Linked DNA regions of Homo sapiens. The protein of the gene in region 1 interacts with the protein of each later gene in a biochemical or structural test. Each region holds a gene or a part of one and is shown in the gene's direction. Other genes may lie near its edges.

Evidence for each region.
Region 2: the proteins of ITPR3 (region 1) and TRPC3 form a complex in vitro, tested with the Homo sapiens proteins (one study listed by BioGRID).
Region 3: the proteins of ITPR3 (region 1) and TRPC5 form a complex in vitro, tested with the Homo sapiens proteins (one study listed by BioGRID).
Region 4: the proteins of ITPR3 (region 1) and TRPC4 form a complex in vitro, tested with the Homo sapiens proteins (one study listed by BioGRID).

What each region holds. Positions count from the first base shown.
Region 1 is NC_000006.12:33,693,485-33,697,062, forward strand, and holds the end of ITPR3 (inositol 1,4,5-trisphosphate-gated calcium channel ITPR3), read left to right. Parts: intron 1-60; coding exon 61-221; intron 222-1,439; coding exon 1,440-1,601; intron 1,602-2,227; coding exon 2,228-2,296; 3' UTR 2,297-3,078; downstream 3,079-3,578.
Region 2 is NC_000004.12:121,944,724-121,949,060, reverse strand, and holds part of TRPC3 (short transient receptor potential channel 3), read left to right. Parts: intron 1-4,337. UniProt on the Homo sapiens protein: Forms a receptor-activated non-selective calcium permeant cation channel.
Region 3 is NC_000023.11:111,911,210-111,915,546, reverse strand, and holds part of TRPC5 (short transient receptor potential channel 5), read left to right. Parts: intron 1-2,734; coding exon 2,735-3,256; intron 3,257-4,337. UniProt on the Homo sapiens protein: Forms a receptor-activated non-selective calcium permeant cation channel. Mediates calcium-dependent phosphatidylserine externalization and apoptosis in neurons via its association with PLSCR1.
Region 4 is NC_000013.11:37,862,713-37,867,049, reverse strand, and holds part of TRPC4 (short transient receptor potential channel 4), read left to right. Parts: intron 1-4,337. UniProt on the Homo sapiens protein: Forms a receptor-activated non-selective calcium permeant cation channel. Acts as a cell-cell contact-dependent endothelial calcium entry channel.

The sequences.
Region 1 (3,578 bases):
GGTGACCCTGCAGTGGCTCTTGAAGGCTGATGGTTTCATTCCCGCCCTCTGCACCCTCAGGTCTGGAGAGGGACAAGTTTGATAACAAGACAGTGTCATTTGAGGAACACATCAAGCTGGAGCACAACATGTGGAACTACTTGTACTTCATTGTGCTGGTCCGCGTGAAGAACAAGACCGACTACACGGGCCCTGAGAGCTACGTGGCCCAGATGATCAAGGTGTGAGCAGGGGCTGTGCCAGGCCTGTGGGCCCAAACCAGCCATTCTAGAGTCATCACTGTGCACCAGAGGCCTCATGGTTTTAGCTTCTGAGTACCCTGGGCCCTGGAGAGGAGTGGCCCTATCTGACTGTTGGCCCTAGGAGGCCAGGCAGAGGGGCTCGGACAGCTGCAGACACTTGTTGAAAGGTCAGCAGGGCGAGGAGCAGCAGCTGGAAGCAGCTCTGGGCTGCACGGAAGCCGCTGCTGCAGAGGGGCCTCCTCACACTTCTGGGTGTCAGGAAAAATCCCACAGCAAACCCATGCGCCCCGAAGAACACGTGTGGTATCCCTGGGCCTGTCGTGCAGTGATGCTGAGGAGGGGTGGAGTTGGGGAGACCCTGCCCGTGGCCAGTGATCTGTGGGCCGCTCTCAGGGAGTGTTTTCTAGCTCGGTGGGAAGGCAGGCTGCTTCCTAAAAAGTCTGAATTAGATGATCCTGGGCTGAAGGGGAGCCTGGAAAAACTTTAAAAATCACTTACAGAAATCAAATGTCATCTGTCCAATTTCTGTAATAATGGAGTGAAGGCAATGAATCATAAAGAAGGAATTATTTATCGTTTAGTCTGTATTTCAAACTGATCTTTGTGTACAGGTTTATCTGTTGGTCTGAGAATTCACAGCTTACTACAAGGAAGCTGAGAATTGCTTGGTGCCCCCTCCCCCCCCGACTCCTCTGTCCTGGGAAACGTGGCTTTGCCTCCCAGACACGTGTCAGATGCCAGCTCTCCTCAGCGGAGCCTCCTGATCCCTCAATTTGCCATCTGTCTGACTCGCGTCTTCCCGGGGCGTGGGGCGTGCTTGTCAGGCAGGCGGGCGGGAGGAAGGAAGGAAGGAGATCCAGGGTCTGTCTGGGTGCAGAGGCCTTCCTCCACCTCTCAGGGGGTGTTATGAGAGTAAACAGATGGTGCTGATACCAGCAAAGGACTCAAACTCAGCTGCCGACGCTGCCTAACGGAAGTCAGCCTGTCTCGGTGGCAGAGGGTTGACAAGAGGGTTGACTGCCAGCTCACTCTGGCCCCGGGGAGGACCAGGTCAATTCAGATTTTCCCATGACACATCCCTGACGAGTAGTTTTGTTAAGGGTGTGGCAGAAGCCTCCCCCCACATTACTGTTTTTCTAAATGAGGCCTTTCTAGGCCGGGCCCACGCCTGCTTAACCCACTGGTGATGTTTTTCAGAACAAGAACCTGGACTGGTTCCCCCGGATGCGGGCCATGTCCCTTGTCAGCAATGAGGGCGAGGGGGAGCAGAATGAGATTCGGATTCTCCAGGACAAGCTCAACTCCACCATGAAGCTGGTGTCCCACCTCACTGCCCAGCTCAACGAGCTCAAGGAGCAGGTGTGCACCCCGCCTGATCCCAGGCCCACCCTGGGTTCTATCCCTGGGCAGTCCCTGCCTGCCTTCATCCTTCCTGACCCACCCTCTTCCCCACTGGCCTCTGGCCCTGGGCCTGGATGAGAAGGCAGGTGCCAAACCCACTCTCCCCTGCATGGCAAGTCAGACTGGGGTTGACAACCCCTGCCTTGGGCCGCTAAAGACAAGGCCAAGTGGAAACTTTAGTACAGGGTGGTGGGGCCCTCTGTCTCTCATCCCCTTCCTCTGACAGCTGCCAGGTAGGTCCTTTGAGGGGATCCCCATCACTGGAGATGGGGGAGTTTAAGGCCCTCTTGCCTAGACATCCTCTTCTGCATCTGGCAGTGCCTGCATGAAGATGAGGCAGCCTCTGTTAGTGGGCTGGTTTCCCAGCTGCATCAAATCCAGGGTTTGTGACACGCTAATTGAGAACAAGGGTTTGGTGCTGACATCGACATCCTTAAAGCACCCCGAGGGGCCCTGGCCCGCCGCCAGTGCCGAATAGCAGCTGGGCCCACAGGGGAAGACGGGTGCCAAGCTCTTCCACAGCACCCATGGAGGGAAGGTGCCAGGCGGCCTGACCAGGCCTGTTGGCATCTGCTTAACCCTAGATGACGGAGCAGCGGAAACGCAGGCAACGCCTAGGCTTTGTGGATGTCCAGAACTGCATTAGCCGCTGAGGAGAGCCACCGAAGGCCCCAACAGGGGATGCTCATCACTGGAGACTGCGACTGGGAAGAACACTGCCCCCTCCCTCGGGTTGGGTGGCCCAGCCAGCTGGCCAGCCTCCACTCCCACTCTGCCAGACACCCTGACACCCACCCAGGCTTTGAAGAGCATGGAGGGGGAGCCTCAGAGCTGACAGTCCTGCTTAGAGCCCTTAAAAAGACTTGAAAGTTCACTGGGACTCAGTTTACCTTAATGCCTTAGCAGAAGATAAATCCTACCTAGAGACCTTTGTTCCTTAAAGCAATAACTGACAACTCTTTGTAGTCCTCCTTGTGGGTAGTTAAGAGTGGGGTCACCCCTTTAACTCCAAGCACTACATTTTGGCGGCTGCCGGCCTCTGGGGGAGGTGGCAGTTATGCTGTTACTAGTGATTTTAGGGCTTTGTTATTTAACTTATTTCAAGGGTGCTGTGCTCAGCCCTGCCCATGGCTGTGCAGCTCCCTCCGTGCCTCAGATCTGCTGTAGCCAGTGCAGACCTCACTGTCGTGTCCATGCCACCCCCGGCATGGCTCCAGGTGGCCTGGTGACTCCATGATGGACGATCTTGCTCCCAGGACCTGCCTCTTCCCAGGCTTCCTGGGGAAGAGTTGTACGCCCAGGCAACAAGGGCTGAGCTGCGCTTGCGTGGCTGTTTCATGACCGCTTGTTTTTCTCCTTTTGGTGTAATGTTTTACAAATCCTTTGGCCTGAGAACTAATATGTTAATTGCCTTAAATAAATTAATAGAAATCTAGTCCGTTAAAAAGGGATGTGTTTCCTGCACTCCCCCGGGGGCTGTGGGGATTAACAGGACACACTGGCAGAAGACAGGAACAAGAGCCCCTCCCTGCTGGCCTGGCCTCTCAGGCTCTCAGGAGATACGCTGAGTGACATCCTGTCTCAAGGGTCCTCCCCTGAGATTTGCCTACCCAGAACTGCATTTCGGCATAACTGGTTTCTACGGCAGTCCTGTCGATTTTATTTTATGCATTTCAGAACATCCTGAGGAGTCTAGACACAGACGAGGTTAAGAACCCACTTCCACTTTGTACCCACCAGGGCCGCTGTGGGCCCAGCCCTGTCCCTCACGGTTCCAGAGAGAAGGATGCTCAATATCAGTAAGAGCCAAGGTTCCATGGAATAATGAGGTGACCCTGTGTGTGTCCTCAGCCAGCAGGGCCTCTGACTTGTGGCCACCTACAGAACCTGCCCACAGTGCTGAAGCCAACTGCAGCTGAGGCCCCGCTTGGCCAA
Region 2 (4,337 bases), on another chromosome or scaffold:
TCAAGCGTTTCTCAAGCGTGCATATTTGCAAAGTGTAGGCTAGGTACTGCAAGCCACAAAGATAAGCATGACAACTTTCCTGTACTCAAGAAGTTTACAATCTCATGAGGGAGAGGTGGGAATGAGACTGGGCATGAGCAGTTATGCTGTAAATTAGAGTAAAATCAGTTCCGTTTTAAAAAAAAACAACAACAACAAAAACAAAAAAACAAAAAAAAAACCGCAAAGAGTTATAAAGGGTCAAGTGCGAAGAAGAGAAGGACAACATTAAGTTGTGGGGAAATCAAGGAAACCTTTATGGGCCTTGAAGGATAGATAGGACAAGAAGCAGAGACAAGGTAAATACTTAATTCAAGCCCTCTCTTTCCCCAAAATGCCAGGCATGTTTAAGGAATATTAGTTGAGTTTGGTTGGAACATAGATATGTATAGGGGAGCAGTGAGATTTAGCTGGACATGTTGGTTTGAGGCATTAGTGCGGAGGATCCTATATGCCAGGATGAGGCACTAGGGAGCCACTGATTATTTTAAAGTAGCAGTAATTTGAGCAAACCCACTCTGGATTGAAGTGGCAATTAATAGAAAGTGAAGAGACAAATTAGGAGATGACTGTAACTGTCCAGGCTGAGATTAGACTCTGTAATAGTGTAGTGTTGGTGGAATGGAAAGGGGAGAAATTGAGGGAAAAAAAAAAAAACCAGCTAGAATCTATGGAATTTTGCAACTCACTATCCATGATGGCTTTAAAGAGAAAGCAGGATCAGAGACAATTTAGTGATTTTTGACCCAGATAACCAACATGGTTGATGCCATTGTTGACAAGAAAAAAGCAAAGGTGAGGATCTGATTTTTCAGATAGTTCTCTTTTTGTTTTTTTTTTTTTTCTTTTTAAAGGAATAGTGAATGATCAAATATTTCTGATAGAGATGTTAAGCAGGGAAAAGGAAATACAAGTTTAAAGCTGTCTGATGGGAATTGTTACACAGTTGTGTGACTACATGAGATTACTCAAAGGAGTGTGAAGAGAGAAACAAAGGGAGTCCAAGCTAGATTTTGAGGGAAAAAGCTTTTGTTTAGAGGGCAGGGAGAAAAAGCAGCAAGAAATAACATCGATGCACACTCTTCAAAAACTGAAAGATCAAGAGAAAAACTTATGACTCTACTGTTAGAAGAATCAGTCCTTGCACGTATTAGCATACATGCACAAAATCATTAGATTTTTCAGCAATGTTATCTTTAACAGAGAAAGATTTCTAGAAAAAAAATCCTGTTTAGTTTTTCTTTAGAGGAAGTGCTGCCAAAAAATTGTCTTAATAAAAGTAGTTAATTTGTGTTTATATACTACTTCATGCTGTCGTTTATACTCATTCACTTAAATCGCTCCTCTTTAAAGCAGTTTTTTAAATCATTGTCATCACTTACCAAATGAGGAAATTAGTACACAGAGATGTAAAGTAATGTTCTAACGCTTCCCTGGCAAATCAATAATAGATCTTCTGATACTCACCTTTATATGATCAAGGAACCAAAAATGAGTCCACAATGCCTTGTAACTCAGATTACCTAAAACACTTTGTATGTTAGTTTCTGTGGCACTGGTCTTGTATAAATGTTCCAGTCTTGGCTTAGCGTGTGTGTTGGCTCAGGCATTAGACTGGAAGCAGGACTTCCCTCCCTCCCAACCCTGGAGGGAATCAGATTCTCCAAGTGATTGTTGAATCTTAGGGACATGAGTCTGGACTTTGAGTCCAGACTGACTAGTGTTATTAAGAAAGAGGCGGCTTTCTTTACAGTTATAGTTTAATTTTTAAGAACAGCACAGCATGGCATTAGACTTAAGGACTTTATTTTTTTAATTCTTTTTTTTTTTTTTTTTTTGAGACAGAGTCTCACTCTATCACCTAGGCTGGAGTGCAGTTGGTGCAATCATAGCTCATTGCAGACTCAAACTCCTAGGCTCAAGTGATCCTCAAATCTTAGCCTCCCAAGTAACTGGGACTACAGGCACACACTACCATAACTGACTACTTGTAAAATTTTTTGTATCGATGAGGTCTCACTATGTTGCCCAGGCTGGTCTCTAACTCCTGAGCTCAAGCAATCCTCCTACCTCTACCTCCCAAGTTGCTGTGATTATAGGCATGAACCACTGCACCACCCAGCCTTGAGGCCTTTAATACTCTGAAACTTTTCTTTATATTATCAGTTGTATATAGCAATTTCACTGTGTACAATGAGTCATCATTTTTGTTGGTTTAAGTTATTTTTATGTAATATCAAATAGTTTTAAAAGTTAGATAGTGCTAAAAGACGTCTACGAACAACAGCAAGCCCCCAGCAATTCCCTGGTCCCTTCTCCTTTTCTGTCTACTCCACTTTCAACTCTTTCATATACTGCTATCTTTTTATTCATATTTTAGATGTTATCAGTAGTCTCAGGTGAGAATTTATGTTCACATGTATCTATTATTCTCCCCCTATCTTCCACAAGATGGTTTATCACAATTTCTGGTTAATATCTTATTTAAGTTCTTCATTAATATGACCATGTAATCATTGTTCACCGCTAAGTCAAGTAGTATAGTATGACTACATTTATTTTCTTTGATAATTGATTGTTTTTCTTGGAGTAAATATTTGTCACATCGTGTCCTTGTTTCTTAGCTAAATCTTCTACGGTGTCTAACTGTGTGTGTTTTCCTGAAGTTATCCTTTCTAGAGCCCTCTAACTTTCTTTGTATGAGGTCTTTTTTTCCCCCCGCTTCAGGAAGCTCTTAGAATTGTCTGTTCATTAGCTCTCTTCTGAAGATGTGCCTTGGTATGGATGCTTTCATCATCACCTGAGCTGGACACTTGGGTAACACTTTCCATCTGGACATTATGTCCTTTAGTTCTGGGAAGTTTTCCTAACCACTATTTTTATTCTTTGCTTTTTCTGGAATTTCTATGGTCTGGATGTTGGACCTCCTGACTGATCCCCTAGTTTTTATATCTCTTCTCTTCTGTTTTCCAGTGCTTGCTTTTTGTGTTTTTTCTATTTCCTTGTCTCTATCTCCCAACTCTTTCACTGAATTTATTTCCATTTTAGTGATTATATTTTTAATTTCTAAGAGCTCTTTCTTGTCTTATGAGTATTCTTTTTTATAGCATTCTTTATTTCAGAGATCCAGGGGTTTTTTTCCTAATATTTCTCAGGGGAGAAGAGATTAGGAAATAATAAACCTGGCTGTTAGTATTGACGAACTGGGCAAGAGTCCCCCTGTTCCTAGTTCCTGCCCCCCTGGTATCCCCACGTCTAGAGCATTTCTGTTTCTGTATCTCCAGAGATTCCATATCCTATCTCCCATAGGGGTGCAGGAGGGTTGTCACTTAACCATATCAATTAGCAGGTGGGGATGTAGGGGGAGGGTTTCTATGCACTTTTTATATAGCCAATTCCCTCATTTTAGGTTCCAGCCTTATCTCTACTTTCTGGAATTTTTTTTGCTTTCAATTTCTGGGCGTTCTCTAGCATTGAGCTGGGTGGATCAGCTTGTTTTCTGTAACAGCCACTGTAGTTGGAACTTCTTTCTCTCCACTAAATGATTTACTATTTTAACAACTCATCTCCTTTCCACCGTTATATATTGTAGCTTGGAGTTACAAATGTCTCTTGGTTTCATGGAAGATGAAATTTGTGTTGCAATTCCTTGTTCTCCTTGTTTAGGGAGGTAATTTTGAAAAGGAGAAGGGATGAGAAAGGCCTTTATTCCACCATCTTGAGACTGAACATCCCTATGATACACTCCTATGATTGTGTGTTGTGTTTATTTAAGCCCTAACATTGGCAATATTATTTAACGTAACCAAGAATGGCAGAAGGAAGAACATTCTTACTCGTAACTGATCTTATTAAGCACATGGAGTAGATAGTAACTTACACTGTGTGATAAGAAGGTCATCTGAATTCCCCACCTAAAATCATCTTAGTACCACACTTCTGAAATTTAACAATATAGAATATTTTGAAGAATAATAGAATGTTTGAATTTGAAAGGATTTCATCTAGTCCAGTCTCTTATTTTACAAATTAAGAAACTGAAGCTGCAGATTGACATCTAATTCACAGCAGCCCCAGGCCATCTGAAATCCCCAGCTTTCTGGGACTGTGCTGTTCGCACTGTGGCCTCCTGTGGTTAAGCATTTCTCTCTTCCTCAAAGAAATTTTAAAATGCATTTACTCTTGGGAGGAGCAATACAGGAAACTATTAATTAGTATTAATTTATTTATGAAATCCAATTAATTCATTTAAATTTGGCTGCTGATGGCAAATCAACTTGAGAAAGTTGGTAAGCTAA
Region 3 (4,337 bases), on another chromosome or scaffold:
AAGAGGAGGAGCTATTGAAGAAGCCAGAACTTGCAATGGCCCCTGAGTGGCAGAGAAATGGGGCGAGAGACCATTCCACACAGGGGATCCACAAGGATATACACACAGAAAGCAACCTGTGAGTGACAACACTGATAGGAGGAGAAAAAGCAGTCTGGGCGGGAGGGCAAGGTTGGTCACTGTAGACCAGTTTTCTTTTTAAAAGGTTTCCTCTCTGGTGTTAGGTACTCAGGAAGCCGAATGGAGAATAATAAAGTTCCTTGTTAGACAATATAATCGAGTAGTTTCAGAAAGCATTTCATATTCTAGGCATAGACAACAACAACCTTTTGGCTCTATCATACAAGTGGGGCTAAACACTATTCACGGGTACTGCTGTGTGTATTGGACAGGACTGGCAGCACTGCCTTAGAAGAAAAGAAAGGAAAAGAGTAAGAAAAGTAGAAAGAATAAGGAAGTGGCGGGGAGAGAGAGAGAGAGAGAGAAAGAGAGCGAGGAAAGAGGAATAGCATGGTAGGAAGCAGACCCATACCCATAATCGAACCCAGGGAATCCTGTGCTACAGGTTAGCCTCTCTTCCCTTCTGCTCAACACTTTTAGACCCTGACAGAGATGAGGAATGCCTCTGCCTGGAGAAAGGGCAGATTTCTCATCTGAGCTCGCTTCTTCCTGGGCAGACTGTGACAAATTTCTCACTTCCCCATCTCTCCCAACTCTAGGCTTTATGCTGATAGTGTTTATGTTCATTTCCAGACCCACTCAGACCTACTTCTTCCTTAGCCTGTAAGCTTATGTTAATTTCTGAGATTACTCTTTCCTGTGTCCAATTTACTTTATGAGCCAGTTGCTCACTTCCTGCTGTCTTGTTTGTAGCTGCTCCCTCTAAATGTTTAACAGTGTTTACTCGCTGCTCCATCCTAGCCATTAATGACCATTATGCAGTCATCTTTCAACTATTCAGAGGCTGATGCAAGCACTCAGTGAAGGAAACAGGTTTCTTGCAAACTCCTCCTCCTCCACCTTTCTCCTACTGTATGTTTTCTGGCCACTTCCCTGTTTGAGAATCCTGCGTGCAAGGTGGGAGGGAGGCAATGATGTTGAAAAACAGTTAACTCATCCCTTTGTCAGTTCGCCAGTAACTGTGGGTTGTTGTTTTATTTTTTAAAGGAGTTTTGAGAGTAAAAAGAACCTATTGATTAAAACACGATTTGTCTCTCTGCTTACATTTACAGAGATAAAAAAATCTAAAACAAAACAAAAATCCCATGATTTGTCTATTCGATGAGACTCCCAATTATCCATGGTCTGTCCTACCCAGTTAAAATGAACATTTGGAACTTTTTTTTCCTAAAGTGTAATAAAAATCAATATTTCCCAATTTTCTGGAATCCTAGACATGTTTTGAATACTCGGCTCCACCTCTTAAAGCCTCTGTTGCCTCTGTTGACTATTCCAGCCCTCCCCTTCTCTAGCTCTAGATCCTACCACACTTAAACTCTTCTGTGAGTCTAGCAAGCTGCCTCAGTTTCCCTACTGGACTGAGAAAAGACTGGGTCCCAAAAGAGACTTTTTTTTTTTTTTTTTTTTGAGACTGAGTCTTGCTCTGTTGCCCAGGCTGGAGTGCAGTGGCGTGATCTCGGCTCACTGCCAGCTCTGCCTCCTGGGTTCATGCCATTCTCCTGCCTCAGGCTCCCACGTAGCTGGGACTACAGGCGCCCGCCACCATGCCCGGCTAATTTTTTGTATTTTTAGTAGAGACGGGGTTTCACCGTGTTAGCCAGGATGGTCTCTATCTCTTGACCTCATGATCCGCTCGCCTCGGCCTCCCAAAGTGCTGGGATTACAGGCGTGAGCCACTGTGCCTGGCAAGAGACATTTTAAAGTCGAAAGATTTTTTAATTCATTGATCAGGTTCTGCACACTCACCCGGAAGTGCTCCTGAATACCCAAAGAAGCCCCCATCTTTCACCTATAGCTGCTATTTACACTAAACATTACATCATGGACATAGCAGTTTTATCAATGGTACTGTTGCTATCAGTATCCCCTCCCCAAGCCGAGAAGTCTTCATTTTCAGAGTACTTCTTCCTGACCCTAACGAATCATCTTTACCTTCCTGGGACCTACAGGAAGTTGGACGAACCCTGTCTGGCCTTGGGCTTTGGTCCCCTGAAGTTATATATATAGTCTCTACTGCTCATTTGGAACTGAGCAGATAATACTATGTACTGTTACCAGTTTTATGAAAGTTTGCTCTACCCAAGTAATTCTCCAGGAGGTCAGGAAAAATGTCCTTTACTTCTCTGTATTCTCCAGTATGTCTCAGACAGAAATGGGCATGTTGTCATTGCATAATTGACAATTTGACTCTAGAGCTTGGCTCTAGAGTCTTGCTTGGGTTTGAATCCTGGCTCTGCTGACTAAAAACTTTGTAACCTTAGGTGTGTTCTTTAATCTCCCTCTGTCTCAGCTTCTTCATATGGGAAGAATATTTACCTCACAAGGTTGTTGTGGAGATTAAATGAGTAAAGACATGTAATGTGCTTAGAATAGTGCCTGGCACACAATAAGCATCCCACAAACATTAGCTATAAGGAAGGAGGTTTAGGAGGTCAAAAGAATTGAAACAAGAATGGAGACTCTAATTCCTGAATCGCCAGCATTTTATAGGCCCTATGCTTCTCTCTCCAAACTTTAATCCTGCCCTTCTATTCTTCTCATTTCTTGTACCTAGGTCCCCACTCTGATGATGGACACGCAGTTCTCTGAATTCACACCGGACATCACTCCCATCATGCTGGCTGCCCACACCAACAACTACGAAATCATCAAATTGCTTGTCCAAAAACGGGTCACTATCCCACGGCCCCACCAGATCCGCTGCAACTGTGTGGAGTGTGTGTCTAGTTCAGAGGTAGACAGCCTGCGCCACTCTCGCTCCCGACTGAACATCTATAAGGCTCTGGCAAGCCCCTCACTCATTGCCTTATCAAGTGAGGACCCCATCCTAACTGCCTTCCGTCTGGGCTGGGAGCTCAAGGAGCTCAGCAAGGTGGAGAATGAGTTCAAGGCCGAGTATGAGGAGCTCTCTCAGCAGTGCAAGCTCTTTGCCAAAGACCTGCTGGACCAAGCTCGGAGCTCCAGGGAACTGGAGATCATCCTCAACCATCGAGATGACCACAGTGAAGAGCTTGACCCTCAGAAGTACCATGACCTGGCCAAGTTGAAGGTGGCAATCAAATACCACCAGAAAGAGGTAAGCTGAGCTCATGTCTGCTTTCAGGGAAGCTTAAAGCCTCCAAAGTCTGGAGCAGCAGAGCAAGAATCAGCATTTTTCTACCATTTAGCCCCCTAACAAACAAATGGTTGGGCAGGCCTCACAGCTAGGCCCATTTATCCGAGGCACAGACAACCTTTTTGTATTTTCTTTATGGCCAGATAAGTAACCATCTGATTCTTTGGTGGAAAAGCATTCATGCATTTAACAAATGCTTACTGAGCACTGTTCGGAGTGTTTGCGATACAGAAGACAGACACCGACCCTGCTTTCATGGAGCTTACAAGCTGGTGGTGGATATAGAGTAAATGATCACTTTAATGAATACATAATTACCTACTAAGATATGTACTCTGAAAGAACAGTGCTCTGTGAGAGCACATAACAAAGGATCCTATCCTATATACTGGGGACATAGTGGGCAGTGATTACAGGAGGGTCGCTGCCTGGATGCTGGTAATTGTTGGCACAACTGAATCCCTGGCAGCCCCTTAGCGAGAAGGCTAAAAAACACATTTGAAAGATGAAGTCATACTCAAGGTTTGTAGGTCAATGAAAGGCTGAAGCAGGATCTGCTATGGTATGACCTCCAAAATGTTAGGTTCCACGTCTTTGAGGGAGGTCAGTTCAAGCAGGTCACAGGTGAGGCTTTGATTTCCAGTTAGGGAAGATTTACAATCAAACAGGTGTAGTTCTATGCCAACTTATCAGACAGTTTGGGAGAGCCTCCTAACAAGGCTAACTTAGCCCTTTAAGGAAGCAGCATGATACCACGGAAAAAGCAGGGACTATGGAGCCAGAGCAACTGAGGATAGAATTTTAACCCACTAGCTGTATGACCTAAAGAAACTCACTCCTATTTTCAGGGCATTAGTTTTCTCATTTATAAAATAGAGATGAAAATAGTTTCTTCACTTCATAGGGGATTGTGGGAAATAAGAAAAGCTAACATTCAGTGCATGGCACCAGAAGTGCTTTGATGTCCATTTCCATCTCTTTTCCATGCTACCTGGAGTCAAAGCAGCTGAGGGGTGCCTGCCAGCTGAAGGGCAACTGGCAG
Region 4 (4,337 bases), on another chromosome or scaffold:
ATGAAATCAAATTCTAATGTGCACTTTGACTTTAGAAATTGAATTGCCTAGACTCAATTGGAACCAGTGTTATTGACCTCTTTAATGCCTATGGAAACCCCACCATGATTATTTGGTTCTCATTAAAAATGAGGTTGAGGAGACAGCTCAAAATAAAAACTTTGCCTTTTCACCTAATTTATACCCTATACCCGCCCCCCCCCACAAAAAATAAACATTAAAACTGGTTCGACTCAACCCAAATTTAATTGGGAATTTGTTTCTATCTAGTTATAATGAAGAGTTGATTTAGAACTATCTCACTACTCATGTTTTCTATTTCTCACCCTTCCAGAGGCATTGACCCCGCAATATTTTAAGAGATTTGAGAATATTTTGATCAGGGATATAATATCATGGCTGTGTCTTTTTAATCAGCACAAATATAGACCTAATTTTTGAGAACATTAGTATTACCAAAATAACTTTATGATGCAAAAAATGCATTTAGGGAAAGACACCATTTGTTTGGGAAACTGAAAATTAAAGGCATGCGCATTGAAAATGTATTAATTCAAAACCTTGTGGTTTCATGAACTATTTAGCAAATTAAGTGCTGTATTTAAATGTTTAAAAAATATAAGTGACCCTCCTGAAAGTTGTTTAATTTTAATAGAATAAGAAAGAAATAGTTTCAGAACTTGATCTACTATTGTAACTAAACTGTATGTAATATCCTATTAATATTAGTGTATGTTTTATCTCTCTTTTTAAAAATATAGCAGTGTCATAGAATAATGACTTCTTGAGAGACACTAAGTGACACATGGACACAGTGTTACATATAAAATTAGAAATGTTAATTAAAACATTAATTTAAAAATATGCCTTGATAGCTTTATCTAGCACACTGCATTCTTTTTGAGAAATGACAGTGAAATTAAATGAATCAGATATTCATTAATTATATTCTGTCTGTGGTTTGCTGTTAGATTTTGAAATATGTTGAAAAATTACTTCAAGCAAATACTATCAAGAGTTCAAATTTACCTGAAACAGGACCTATTGTGAAAAAAGAAAAGAGGGAAAATGGGCCAATATTTATGAGAATTTAATGTACACTTGGCACTATGTGAGAAACTTTGAAAAAGAAAGCTATTTTTCATTGTTATCTTAACATCTACCTTGAAACTGAAGTATTATCACATTTTAACAACCTGAGAAAGATGAAATTTATGAAAATCACAAAATTGCTTTGTGGGAAGGCAGGATTTGAAGTATATCAAATTTTACTATCAGGTACTACGTCTACCTGATGGTAAAGACTACACTCTTTTTACTTAATTCCTGTGGTTTCTAAAATACAATCAATAATCTTTTAACAAGTTTCATAAATTCATTTTTTCAGCTATTTGTTTCTTGAATTTTAAAAATATTATAACATTGGAATATAAACAACTGTCCCCATCATGGGGATAGAATTTGAAACAATAGTCTGTTAAAGTTCCATCAGTTTTGAAGCAGAGCAAGAGATAAGCTACTTATCTTGAGCAGGATGATCTCAAAATGACTTCCTTTCTTATTCTTAAATATAAATCTAATACATGTAAAAAGAAAAAAAAAGTTTGTTTTTATGAACAAAGTTCAAGATTATAATTTTTTAGAAATACTCATGAGCTTATAATTTATAAATAAAAAGTTATCATGCTAACCTTTTGACCATCTGTAAGCTGGTAATAAAATGTCTTTATTAAAAAAAAGGTCATGCTAGGCCATGTTAGGTTTATACTACATCTTATCAATGTTATGTAAAATTTCTAGACAAGTGTATTTGTTTTAGTTTTCCCTGAAATTTTAATTTTCCAATTATTTTAATGTCCCTTGGTATTTGAGAGGAGCTCTCATTCATGCATCCCAAAAGACATCGATTAGCTGAATTTGTCATGATATTTACTAAACATATATATGCATTTGCGCTGACAGGATTGTGTCCAAAACCTATTGACATTGAGGTTGAAGGAATACTTTCTTTGAATATATGTACTACCATTACAAAAGTTATCACTAAAATCTTATCCATTCAGTAGATATTTGTTGAATATTAGTAAATGAATAATTGAATCAATAGATGAATGGCACATGCGTAAGCTTTTCATTTTTGTTGCATTTCCTGGCAAAGCTCCCTCTGTCTAGAATAACTTCTACCTTTTTGTTTCTGTAAAAATATTCTGCAGGCACTAAAGCCTAGTTAGTGCCTAGTTAGTGCCTAGTTTGTGCCTAGTTAAATCCAATATGACCGTATCCTTGAAAGTTTCCTTCATTTCTCCAGATGTCCCAAGTATAAATACAAGCAAAGAGCTTGTTATATTCTGTCTTGCAGGCTGGCAAAGATCTGTCTCCAGATCTAGACAGTAAACTTTTTAAAGAAAACCGGAGGATTTTCAAAACTGTGTGAGTTTGTAACTGAATTAGAGTGCCATAAATACTATGCTTCATAATTGACATAATTAATGTATTTTATACTTTCATAATATTGTACTTGGCTAAACTTTTAGCATATTTTTATATAATGATGCCAATTGTGATAATGTTGCACTTATACAATATATTGAGTACCATATTATTTCTTATGTTACAAAAATAATTTACCCACCATTATTCAATAAACTTAACTTTCAGTCAGCTACTTACTCTATAATGCTCATTTTTATAGGATTTATATAACCAGTTATTAATGTGTTTCAGTTTAAGTGGTACTGTGCCAGAATTCTTAAAGGAGGGCTTTTGTTCCATTACACTATGAGAGGAGTAGTTAGAGTTGAAAGAGGACAGATACAAGTGTTTCTCAGGAATGCTTACTGAACTAAAGAAAGCCAGAGACTTCTTTGGAGTGATATTTGGAAAGTAAGTTGAGAGTGCATTTCAAAGACTTGACAATACATGATGTTCCATTGTGGGTGGCATGAGGGATTTGTTTTAAATTATTTTCATTCTACTTCATTGACAATAGAGTTTTTACAAATCAGATTATGAAAAGTGTTCAGATACTCTGCCACATTTTTAATGCATTTCATCTCTAAATGATAGTGGAGAAGTAACACAATTTGCATACCGGGATCATAGTTCATAACACATTGTAATTTTTATTTTCACAGAATTAGTATAATAGTGCTGACTATGTGCTTTTTGAATAGATGAGTGAAATAAATGAATGCATAGATGATTGAATTGGTCTGTCATCAGCTGCTATGCTCAACCTCTTTAACACACTGTTCATTCAAGTAGCTGATCATACACCAATATGAATCTCCAAAAACACAATGGAGGGATGAGAGGACAGGCATAGTGTACATGGAGTGAAGAACAGAGAATCTATCATGATTTATGTACAATCATCTCCATCATTTATGACAGCATGAGTTTCTTTTTATGTAAAGATCCCTTTCATTCTAAGGTAAAGTGAAGCTGCATGCCCTGAATCACACTGAGGTCACACTTTAAATGAATGCTCTTTTGTGGTAGTTGCAGTTTGACAAGCAGAGTTGGGTCTTCTTTAATTTTATCTAGAGCCCAATATGTACAGGAATATAATATATATGTGTATACAACATACATATAAGTATATATGTGTAAACACACAAACATATATGTAATAACAGTAAATAACAAGTAATAAAGAGTGGGAGACTGCTTGAGTGTGAGACACAAATTATTATCAAATAGTATAGAGTAACCCATAAAGGACCACAGTATTTGTTTTTGAATATGTCAGTGTCCCTATAAAATGGTTAGATTTGCAATGAATGACTTGGAAGATCATCTTATTTAAAAGTATGTTTGTAAGTAGGCCCCCTAAATCTTTCTATATGATCATGCAGTCATACATCAAATACGTCCTGAGAAAGGCATCATTAGGCAATTTCATCATTGCACGAACATCATGGAGTGTACTTACACAAACCTAGATGGTAGAGCTTACTACATACCTAGGCTATATGGAATAGCCTATTTCTCCTAGGCTACAAACCTGTGTAGCATGCTACTGTAGTGAATACTGTGGGCAATTGTAAATATACAATGGTAGGTATTTGTGTATTTAAACATAGAAAAAGTACAGTAAAAATACAGTATTATAATCTTATGGGCCCACCGTCATGTATATAGTTCATTGTTGCCCAAAATGTTGTTATGTGATGCGTGACTGTGTATTTCTCTGTCTACACATACGCACACATACACACACACACGAGCACACACTTTACTGAGGTCTTAATACATAACAGTCACTCTGCTAGATTCTGAGGATACAGAGATGAACAAGACATATTTTCCTTTTTCTTTAATATTTTAAGCAAAGT